3 linked regions of the Homo sapiens genome follow. The protein of the gene in region 1 interacts with the protein of each later gene in a pairwise test. Each region holds a gene or a part of one and is shown in the gene's direction. Other genes may lie near its edges. The genes, in order: ZNF618, TPTEP2-CSNK1E and RIIAD1.

The links.
Region 2: the proteins of ZNF618 (region 1) and TPTEP2-CSNK1E interact in a two-hybrid assay, tested with the Homo sapiens proteins (one large-scale study listed by BioGRID).
Region 3: the proteins of ZNF618 (region 1) and RIIAD1 interact in a two-hybrid assay, tested with the Homo sapiens proteins (one large-scale study listed by BioGRID).

The regions. Positions count from the first base shown.
Region 1 is NC_000009.12:113,874,671-113,878,420, forward strand, and holds the start of ZNF618 (zinc finger protein 618), read left to right. Parts: upstream 1-1,638; 5' UTR 1,639-1,710; coding exon 1,711-1,743; intron 1,744-3,750. UniProt on the Homo sapiens protein: Regulates UHRF2 function as a specific 5-hydroxymethylcytosine (5hmC) reader by regulating its chromatin localization.
Region 2 is NC_000022.11:38,396,715-38,400,464, reverse strand, and holds the start of TPTEP2-CSNK1E (casein kinase I), read left to right. Parts: upstream 1-1,549; 5' UTR 1,550-2,027; intron 2,028-3,750.
Region 3 is NC_000001.11:151,724,393-151,727,434, forward strand, and holds part of RIIAD1 (RIIa domain-containing protein 1), read left to right. Parts: intron 1-3,042.

The DNA.
Region 1 (3,750 bases):
GTGTTTGTTAAGGGGGGCAAGAGTTGTGTTTCTTAATTTCATGTCTCCCATATAGGGCTAAACTCCCAATTTAACTTATTAGGGAAAGGAGGTGTCTTCTACACAGTGCCTCCGTTTCCTAAAATTTTAAAAATAACTTTTTTGAGGATTGTAGGGAAAACATTTCTGTAACCTTTCCTGTCTCATATTGCTCCAGTTCTTTAAACATTACAAAAAAGAACATTTGATTTTTGAAGGTGGGGGCAGAGAGAAGATACCTGGTTACTCTTAATTTCCAATGCTTTTATTTTTGAAAAGTACCCTTGCAGTTTTCTTTTGGGGAGGGGCAAAGAAGGATTTCTGTTCACCTTGCATCTCATAGAAGAGCAATTCTTAACATTTTTATTCCAAAAATCAACCAGTTGTGGGAGATGTAGGATGGATCCAGTAATCCCTCCTTGTCTCTATAATAGGGCAGGTCCTTCATACTTTCAATTTTTAAAAAATCGGATTTTTTAGGAGAATAGGGAAGAGAATAGAAAAAAAAATCCCTTTTAAACTTTCCCAAGTCACAAGGAGGCAGTTGCTCAAGTTAAAAAAAAAAAAACAACAATAACAACAACAAAAAAACTGGCTATTTTGGGGTGTTGGAAAGAAATATCCTGGTTCACGTTTTATTTCACATGCAAGTTTCTCAAATTTTCCTTCTCTAAATCAACCTAACTGGGGGATATGGGGGTGGGGGGCGCTAATATCCCTTAACCTTTAACCCCTCTTGTCTTACTGTAGGACCAGTTTTTCAAACTTTTATTTAGAAATACATATATATATTTTAATTTGGCAAGGATAGGCAGAAACAGCCGCTTCACTGGCATTTCACATAAAAGCGGCTCCTCAAGTATTTATTTTAAAAATCAGTCTGGCTGGGGGGCTAGAGTCCCCTTAACCACTCTTGTCGGACATGGGGCCAGTCCTTCAAACTTTTATTTTATTACATTAGTTTTTTTGGGAGGAGTGGCAGGGCAATAGAATATTCCCAATAAGCCTTCCAGTCTTCCAGCAAGCCAGCTCTTGAAAACTTTTATTTCAAAAATCAATCTGGTTTTTTTTTGGCGGGGGGGTACAGCGGGGTACAGAGTTCCCATTAACCTCTTGCGTTCCGCCGAGAGCCGGCTCCCTGAACTTTTTTTCCAGCGTGAAAATGACATTTCCGAGGGGCTGGGGGACTGGGGGAGGGCAGAAGGGAGCCGGGGAGCGGGCGCGGGGGGCGCGGGGAGGGCAGGGCGCGGCGCGGGAAAGTTTGGGGGGGCGGGTGTGCCGCGGCACTGGGGCTGGCGGACGGGAGGGCGGGCGCGCCCCTGGACCGGCCGGCTTTGTGTGCCACGCGGAGGCCGGCAGCGCGGAGGCCGAGGCCGAGGCCCCGAGCTCGCGGGCCGCACGGCGAGGCCGGCCCGGGGGCGGGCAGGGCGGCGGGGGGCGGCGGCGGCCCCGCGAGGGGCGGCTCGGCGGCAGCGGCTGCCGCGGCGCGGCCGGTGCGGGCCGGGGGTGGGGGCGAGGGCCGGCGCCCCCCCCGCGCGCCCCCAGCGCCCCCGCCCCCCCGGCCTGAGCGGGGCGGGCGGAGGAGGGAGCGGCGGCGGCGGCGGCGGCGGCGGCGGCGGCATTGTGCGCGCACCAGCAGCCCGGCCCGGGAGGAGCAGGACGCGCCGGGGCCGCCTCCTCCCGCACGGACCCATGAACCAGCCGGGCGGCGCGGCGGCTCCGCAGGTACGACGGGGGGCCGGGGGCATGCACCGCGCGGGGGACCCCGGGGGGCCGGGGCCCGGGGCGCTGCGCCACTTCATTGCAAGATTTGCAAAATGCAAAGTGCCTGGGCACGTTTGCGGGCTTTTTGTGGGCGCAATCGGGAGGGTCGGGGTCCGGAGAGCACCCCCCCGGGCGCTGCGGGGTGCGAGGAGGGTGGGGGTGACGAGGGGGTCTTTTGGGGCCCCCACCCAGCGCCCCCTCCGGCCCCGGGCTCGGACCGGAGCCCAGAAAACAAAGCGGCGAGAGAACAGAGCAGCCATTTCAGTTTGGACAATTCACATTTTGCAAAAATGCAACCCCTTCCAGCTCTGCCCCCTCCCCCCCAAATTTGCAATTTTCCCCTGACCCTCTCTGCGCTCGGGGTCCCCGATGACCCCCCGGGAGGTCTTTCCCCCCAGGTCCCCCATTTTTGCAACAATCTTTTTTTTTAGGCCATATTTTCCTTTCTCAATTTTTTTTTTCTAATTTTTCTTCAAACGGTAGTTTTTTCCCATTAAAACGACGCCACCTAGAGGATACTATTTTGTAAATAAAAAAGAAATTAAAATTGAAAAGAAATATTTTTTATTTCTTATTTTTTCAAAAGTTTGCACTACCAGGCAGTGGAGGGGTAAGAGATTCTTTTTTTTTCTTTTTTCGGGTGAAAATTTTCACTTTGATCTTTCCAGAAGCATGGAGACAATTTTTATTTCTGAAGCCAAATCCAGATAATATGTAAATGAAAATTAAGCTGGAATTTGAATGAATTTAGTTCTTGGAGGGGAGAAAGCAAAAAACCTCCTAAAAGCAAAGTCAGTTTGGGTACCCAACTCATTTTAGTTTGAGAAAAAAACTAATTGGAATAAAGAAAGGAGGGAAATTGTTGAGTTTAGGGAAAACTGAGAGAATTGGCTTTATGAAGCAATTAGAAATTGTACTTCATTGTAATTTGGAACTTGTTTAGCTCAGCGGGCAAAAAAAGACTAATTTCTCTATATGGCAATATTTAAAGTTTTTCTATTTCCACGAACGAAGGATTTAAAAGAGAAAATAGAACCTAAAATGTTGGCTTTGGACACACCCAAAAATTGTAGTTTTTTTTTTTTAATTTTGCATTTACATTTTACTGCATTTAAATCCTAAGATTCTAAAGAAAACAGAAACTAGAAAAGTTACAGTGAAATCCTTTCTTTCTTTTTTTCTGTATTTGTTGGGTTTTGTGTGTGTGTGTGTTTTTTTTGTTTTGATGGAATAATTAAGACTGTTTTCTGATTTTGTTTCCTGAAAGGTCTAGGCATTTCTTTTTTGTTGTTGTTTTATCCAGAAAATGTCAGGAACCTTTTTTGAGCAATATTAAGTGGAAAAAATGTAAATTCATACATTATACAAATTGAGTAGCCCACAGATTTGTAGGAGAGACCGCCATTAAAATAAGATATGCATAATTAACATTATTATGAAAAAACTAACAGTGGATTCACAGAAGCTCATTTTTTATGACATGCAACTGAATCAATTGATGAAGACAAGGATTGAGGAATCCTTGGTAAGGAAGAAAATTTTCCCTTTTCTGTCTTGTTCACCCTTCCAATTTGAAAAATTTATTACTTAAAAAAAATTTAGATTGGTTTCAGGCCTCTTTGATTGTGATGTGGGGTTGGTAGTTTATCAATATTTGTTATTTTTCAAAAACCTGATTACTTTCAAAGGGGGAAAAATCCATTAGCCTTGATCATTTTGGGGGGTTTGTGACCAAAAAAAAAAAATGCACAAATTTTACTGACTTAACAAGAAAAAGATAAAAGAGGGATGGGCAAAAAGGAGATGAAAATTCTGATTCTTATCCATCTTCCTTGGTAGAACACTTACTTTGCTGAAGAAATGTGATATAACACCAACTCAGCTGGTTTTAGCAGCAACAAAATAAAGGAAAAATAATCAAAATACAAACAAAAGCCAAACCCAAGGTTTGCCTTTGGAATATGAAAG
Region 2 (3,750 bases), on another chromosome or scaffold:
TATCCATTAACATGTAGAATGAGGCTACACTTAAAGGCTCAACCTGGTTGCACTTGTTCATAGTTTCTTTGTTGTGTAGCAAGGCTCATAGTCATTTGTTTTCATAAAGTTAAATGAAGTTTCTTGTTTATGAAGTGTTTTTGGACTGTGTTTTAGAATGTGACAATAAGATTAAAAAATATATTTTAAAGATAGGTATTCATCTTTTGTCAGAAAAGGACTCCTAATACTAAAAGTGATCAATATCAGTGGACTTGAGTGAAAAAAAATTCACCCAATTTAGTTTTTTAGTGCTGGCCTAAGAATCTACCGGCACTGCTAATTAATTGTGAGTAATTGATTGGCTTCCTTTTTAAAAAAGACTAACCAGACCATATGGGGGGTTAGTAGTTATATATAAAATGACAGCAAAACATGACACTTGGCAAATTCTTCCCCTTTGCTGAGCTGTCTTCTCAAATTCCTTTTCCTATTTATTAAGATTGCATTGCTCACCAGCTCCGGATCGTTTCTGTAGTGCGTTCTTTCTTTTGATTTAGGAAATAGATATTTTAAATGCTTTTCTTGATGTGTTTTAAAGTTTTTTCATTTTGGATATGCCGAAGGCCAGTAAAAAAACAAATATTTGGCTATTTTGTTGGTAGCGACTTGCATAGATCCATTTCACATTTGCATTAGTTTGCATTTTGGGGTAGAAAAATTGTGGATATGTTTGTTATGTCTGTGGTTCCTCGAGGCTTACTTAAAATGGGGAAATATCACAGGCCTTAGGAATCAGGATTTTTTTTGTCCTTTTTTTCAGTAAGAAAAAAAAAACAGTTGGGAAACGATTTAAATGAGTTGTGCGTAGGGAGGAGGGGAAAGGGTAGCGGTTTTTTGTTTTTTTTTGTCCCCGGTTTCCTCCAAATGGATTTCTATCAAAACCAAGTAGATTCTTGGAACCTAGTCTAAGTTTAGAAATCTCAAGTTAGAATAGCGCAAGCCCAGTCCTTTCAGAAAAAAAAAAATCAGAACAATTAAATAGCTTTCTGAAGATACTCATTTAAAAACTTTATCTTCTCGACCTTCCTCACGCTTGAAGAAAATCTGAGGTGTTTTTCGCGCACAGCTGCCTTCTAACCCGCGAGCAACGGCGTTAAGGTTTTGTTTGTAATTCGGGGTGACCCAGGAGTTCGGGCCGCGGGCCCCTCCCCTCGCCCGGGCACACCTTGCAGAGGAGGGGGCGGCGGGGACGGGACCCGGGTCTGCGCCTGCGCACACCCTCGCGGCCCCCCCCGCCCCCCCCGCCGGGTACCTGTCACGGCTACCGCCGCGGCGCTCGCCCGCCACGTTAAATCGGATGGCGGGAGTAGGGGTATGGGGCGGGGGGCGCGGGGAGGGTGGCACGGCGCGTGCGTGCGCGGGAGTCGCCGAGCGATAACTGGGAGTGCGCGCGCTCGCCGCTCGCTCGCGTCCCGGAGGCGGAGTCTGTGGCGGGGGGCGGAGCGGGGGCGGGCCTATGCTAGTCACGTGGGCGCGGGGGCGGGGTGGGGCGGGGCGGGGCGTCTCCGAGCGGCGGGCCGAGGGAGGGCGCAGCAGCTGCTCCCTGAACACTTTCTGACCCAACAGTCCCCCAGCGCCGGACGCGCCGCGCCCTGGCGGCTCTAGGGACCCCCCCCGCGCCTGCACTTAGCCCCGCGCCCGAGGTGAGCCCGGCCCCTAAATCCTCCGGGCGGGGGTGGGGGTGCGGGACGCTCCTTTTTTGTTGGGGGTCTTGGAGGCGCGAAGGCACTAGGCGCCTCGGCAGATGGCTGCACCCCTCGCTTGCGGCTCCCCGTGTCTTTTGGGGGGCCGGGTGCGGGCGCGGAATCCGGGAGGTGTCCGCACAAAAGGCCGAGAAAACTGCGCGAGGCCTCCCTCCCTCCGCCCTCCCCGCCCCCTCCCCTCCGCGCCCGCTCCTCCTCTTTCAAACCCGGCCGGCCCGAGTGGAGTCAGCTCAGTCCCGGCAGCCGCCGCGCGAGGAAATGGCCGAGGGGCCGGAGCCACAGGTAAAGGGGGGCGCCCCCCGCCCGCGCCAGCCGGGGCGCCCGCCTGGTCCTGCGGAGGCTCCCGCGCCGCCCCCGAGGCGCCCGGCTCTCGTTGTCTTGTCCCCCCCCAGGATGACCTCAGTTCCCCGTCTCAGCTTTCTAGCTGCTCTTTCTAGGGCGCCCCCTCCCCAGCCGGCTCCTGCGCTTCCGCTGGCGGGAAGGTGCGGGCGATCCCGGGCTGCATCCGCTCTTGGCCGTCACACTCACGCCGCACGATTCAGAAGGGCTTGGGGTGCGGGGTTCCCTGAATCTCCGCCGGGAGCGGGGGTCCGGGGGTCTGCGGGGGTGGGCGGTGGGGGGCTGTTCCGAAAAGTTGGGTCGCCCCGCGGGGCGGGTCTCCCAATTTGCCCAGTCGGCCCTTGGGGCGCGGGCGGAGGGGGGACGTTGGCGTAGGGTCCCCCGCGATACCCCGGGAAGGGCCGGGGGAAGTTGGAAATGGCCAAAACAATGCGTCGGGACAGGCTTCCCCCGTAAACAATGGCCGGGACGGTCCACACGGGCCAGGCGGAGGGCGCGTCTAAGGGACCGCGGGAGGGGCTGGGCCTCTCCGCGGACCCCGAGGTGCGCCGGGTGACTCCCTCGGGTGCCCAAAAATCTGTCCCCGGGAGTCCTGGGGCGCCTGCTTATCCCTGAGCAGGGATGCACGGGGCTGCGTTTCCTGGATGTGTGCGATAAGGTGGCTTTTTTTTCCCTCCTCTAATTTTAAAGATTTTTCTTAAGTCTTAATGTTCTATAAACACTTAAAGAATATCTTTACAACTCAATTGTAGTGGAACACCCAAAGGCAGCTGGAAGCAGAACTGGGAACTCTAAAGGGCAGGAAGGATTGAAATGCTAGCCCAAAAGTGCTGCTGCTTTTTTTTTTTTTCTTTTCTTTTTTTAAAGGGAAGTTTCTGCCAGGAGGTGCCAAGTGGTGAAACCGCTCAGTTTCAGGCACAGCCCTCTTGTCTCTCGATTTGGCCCCGACTGCGAGCCGGACGGGATGGTGGAGGGGCGGAGGGCGCTGCTGGGGGCCTGGGAGGCTGGATTTAGGGCTGCCTGGGCGGTACCGCCCGAGGGGCAAGACCCGACAGCGGGGCGCGCGCCGCAACGTAAGTCCCGGGGATTTGAGAAGACGTTCAGGGCCTGGGTTGGAATCCACATTTTGGGATTCTGGGTAGGGCCACCGAAGACGGGAAGGCGCATTCTTGGGCGGATGGGGTGAGCAGGCGGGGAGTTTTCCGCCAGGTTTAGTTACAGGAGCTAGAAAAGGCCACTTCTGGGACCCTGGCATCTGGGCCACCCTGAGAGCCCCAGAAACTTTTTTTTCTTTTTCTTTCCCCCCCACCCCCCAGAAAAGGATAGTCATTTCAGGTTTAAGGCTTTGGTGTATTGTTCCACTTCGAAATTCCTTGAGCCTCAGTTTATCTTCCTGAATCAGCCTATGGTGCTTGCAGCGGAGAAAGTAAATGGCGGTTGCAGTGGTCCACTGGCCAGTTTGGGGGTCCTGTATAATTGGCCACTGTGTGTGTCAGGCCTCTGAGCCCAGGCCAGGCCATTGCTCACACAAAGCTTGTTTGGTGGTCTCTTCACACGGACGTGTATGAAATTTGGTGCCGTGACCCCAACCCTTAAGAAGGTTGTTTGTAATTCTCCCCACCCTTGAGAATGTACTTTGTGAGATCCACCCCTGCCCACCAGAGAA
Region 3 (3,042 bases), on another chromosome or scaffold:
TACCGGGATGAACCAGAATCAGCTTCTGTCCCTGCTGGCCACCTCACATGGTCCTTCCTATGAGAAAAGAAGAAGGGAGAAGTGAGGGCAGAGTCCTGAGCACCGTGCCTGTCCTTGTCTGTTCTGCAGATATCTGCTGTTGATACATTCCAAGCCAAAAGAAGCTCTGAAGGGTTCTTTCTGGGAAGCAAACTCCCCACTTGGGTTTTTTAGATCCTAATGATTTATGGCCATTCAGCCACAATTCTCCAGCCTATATTGGTAAATACAGCGTACCAAACTCTTAACACCTTGAGTTTTGGACCTGAAAAATGGAAAGAGTAGGAATCTGACTTATTTTAAGGTACACAGAAACCTCAGGTTTTGTGCTGCAGATATGATAGATAGCCAGGTATGAAATTGTAGAAAGTATTTTTTTTTTTTTTGAGACGGAGTCTCGCTCTGTCGCTTAGGCTGGAGTGCAGTGGTGCGATCTCAGCTCACTGCAACCTCCGCCTCCCGTATTCACGCCATTCTCCTGCCTCAGCCTCCTGAGTAGCTAGGACTATAGGCACCCGCCACCACGCCCGGCTAATTATTTTGCATTTTTTTTTTTTTAGTAGAGACGGGGTTTCACTGCGTTAGCCAGGATGGTCTTGATCTCCTGACCTCATGATCCACCTGCCTGGGCCTCCCAAAGTGCTGGGATTACAGGCATGAGCCACCGCACCTCGCCTTTTTTTTTTTTTTTTTTTTGGAGACGAAGTCTCCCACTGTCATCTGGGCTGGAGTGCAGTGGCGCAATATCGGCTCACTGCAGCCTCCACCTCCTGAGTTCAAGCTATTCTCCTGCCTCCACCTCCCAAGTAGCTGGGATTACAGGTGCCTGCCACCAGGCCCGGCTAATTTTTTGTATTTTTAGTAGAGATGGGGTTTCACTATGTTGGCCAGGCTGGTCTCAAACTCCTGTCCTCGTGATCTGCCTGCCTCGGCCTCCCAAAGTGCTGGGATTACAAATACAGCAGTAATCATGTCCTTCCTTGGCTGGAAAAATCTTCAGTAGTTCCACAACGTTGCTTTTTTGGGTTTGTTTTTAAAAATTCTATTGAAATATACTGAAAAGTGACATATCCTAAGCTGGATGAACTGTCAGAGGGTGAAAATACACATGGTACTATTGTTCAGATGAAGAAATAGAACCTTACCAACACCTCACATCCTTTGTGCCCCTCCCAGTCACTCCCCTTAAAACAGTAGCCAGTATCCTGACTTCTACTAGCACGGATTTATTGTGCGCTTTTGTATTTTATATGAATGGAATTTTACACTATGTGCTCTTTTGTGCCTGTTTCCTTTTGCTCAGTCGTATCTTGTAGATCCTCCATTCTCACTGCTGTATAATATTCCAGCATGTGTTATGCCATGTTTTGTCTATTTCCATTGTCTTTCAGATTGAGTATAAATGTCCCTCCCCAGCATTCAAGGCTCTCCGTAATAGAACCTCTTCTGTTTCCCACTACTCCCTGCATGCGTCCCTCACTCAAGCCAGACCACATTTCTGCTCATTCTGCTGACCCTATGGAGCTCAGGCACAGATGCCTCTTGAGTGCTCTTTTGGACTCAAGATAGAAAGGTGTCTACAACCCACTTCCTACTCTCAAGGAAGTCATAGTCTATAGAACACAAACTGTTTCTCTTTCTGGGCCTTTGCTCTTGCTGTTTCCCTGGATCTGGAATGTTTTTGTCCCTCAACCCTCATCCTGCCTACTACAATCCCATGTGTACTTCAAGGGTCCTCTCAAATGCCAGCTGCTCTGTGAAGATTGTTGGGGTCCCCCTCTCAGTAACCTCTCTCCCCACTCTGATCTCCCAGAGCACTATTTAATACTCCTCTTTAGCACTTGTCAGAGGTTCCTTGGCCTTTTGGACATTTGGAAACTAACCTCTTCCTTTTTACTTACCTGTAAATTATTTGAGGTAGGGCTATATTTTATTTTATTTTGAAAAAAGCAGTCACTCATATCTAGTGCAATTACTTGCACATAATTTGTGCCCAATAATTATCAAAATGAATTGAAGGAGAAGGGGGGCAAAATTCTTGAAGGTTAGGAAGGAGGGGCTTCTTGGGGAGTTGGGAGGCCTTGGCCAAGAGAACATATTATAGAGGGCACTGACCTTGGAGTCACAAGACCTGGGCCCTCTTTACTTCATTTACCAAGTTTATGAACTTGGGCAAATCATTAATCTTTTGAAGGCTTGGTTTCTTTGGATGTAAAATGGGGGCATAATAATGGTTGTTTCACAGGGTTGTTGTAAAGTGAGACAATATTTGTGAACATACTTTATGAACCATAAAACTCTATGCAATGTAAGGCATTTTCAACTCTCTAGTGGCATTGGCCCTGCAGGTGTTACCACAGTGTCTCCTTGCTGGACTGAGGGGCCAATAACCATCTGCGGTCCATCTTTTAGCTCTGTTTATTGTATCTCCCTCTGCCCCTTGAATTCATGGTTAAGCTTACTCAGGACATTGTGGGGCTGCATATCTCCCACCATTCGTGGGCCGGCCGGCATGTTCTTCATCTTTGCCTCTTGCCCCTGGCTTGAGATCTGGTTCAGTGAAAATGATCGTTGAGGCCGGGTGCCGTGGCTCACGCCTGTAATCCCAGCACTTTGGGAGGCCGAAGTAGGAGGATCGCTTGAGCCTGGGAGTTAGAAACCAGCCTGGGCCACATAGTAAGACTCTGCCGCTACAAAAAAAAATTAGCCATCGCACATGCCTGTAGTCCCAGCTAGTCGAGAGGCTGGAGATGGGAGGATCTCTTGAGCCAGGGAGGTTGATCGCGCCACTGTACTCCAGGCTGGGTGACAGAGCAAGACGCTGTCTCAAATAAATAAATAAATGCACACATAAACAAGATTGTTGACGGAATGACAAGCCCCACTTGGCTGCAGCACAGCTCTTTCTCGACGTAAGCAATATCCTAGTGTATTGCCATTTAGGATGCTTCACTCCTTGCCTTAGATACGGAGTTGAAGGAAAATCATGAATGAAAGGGTCTT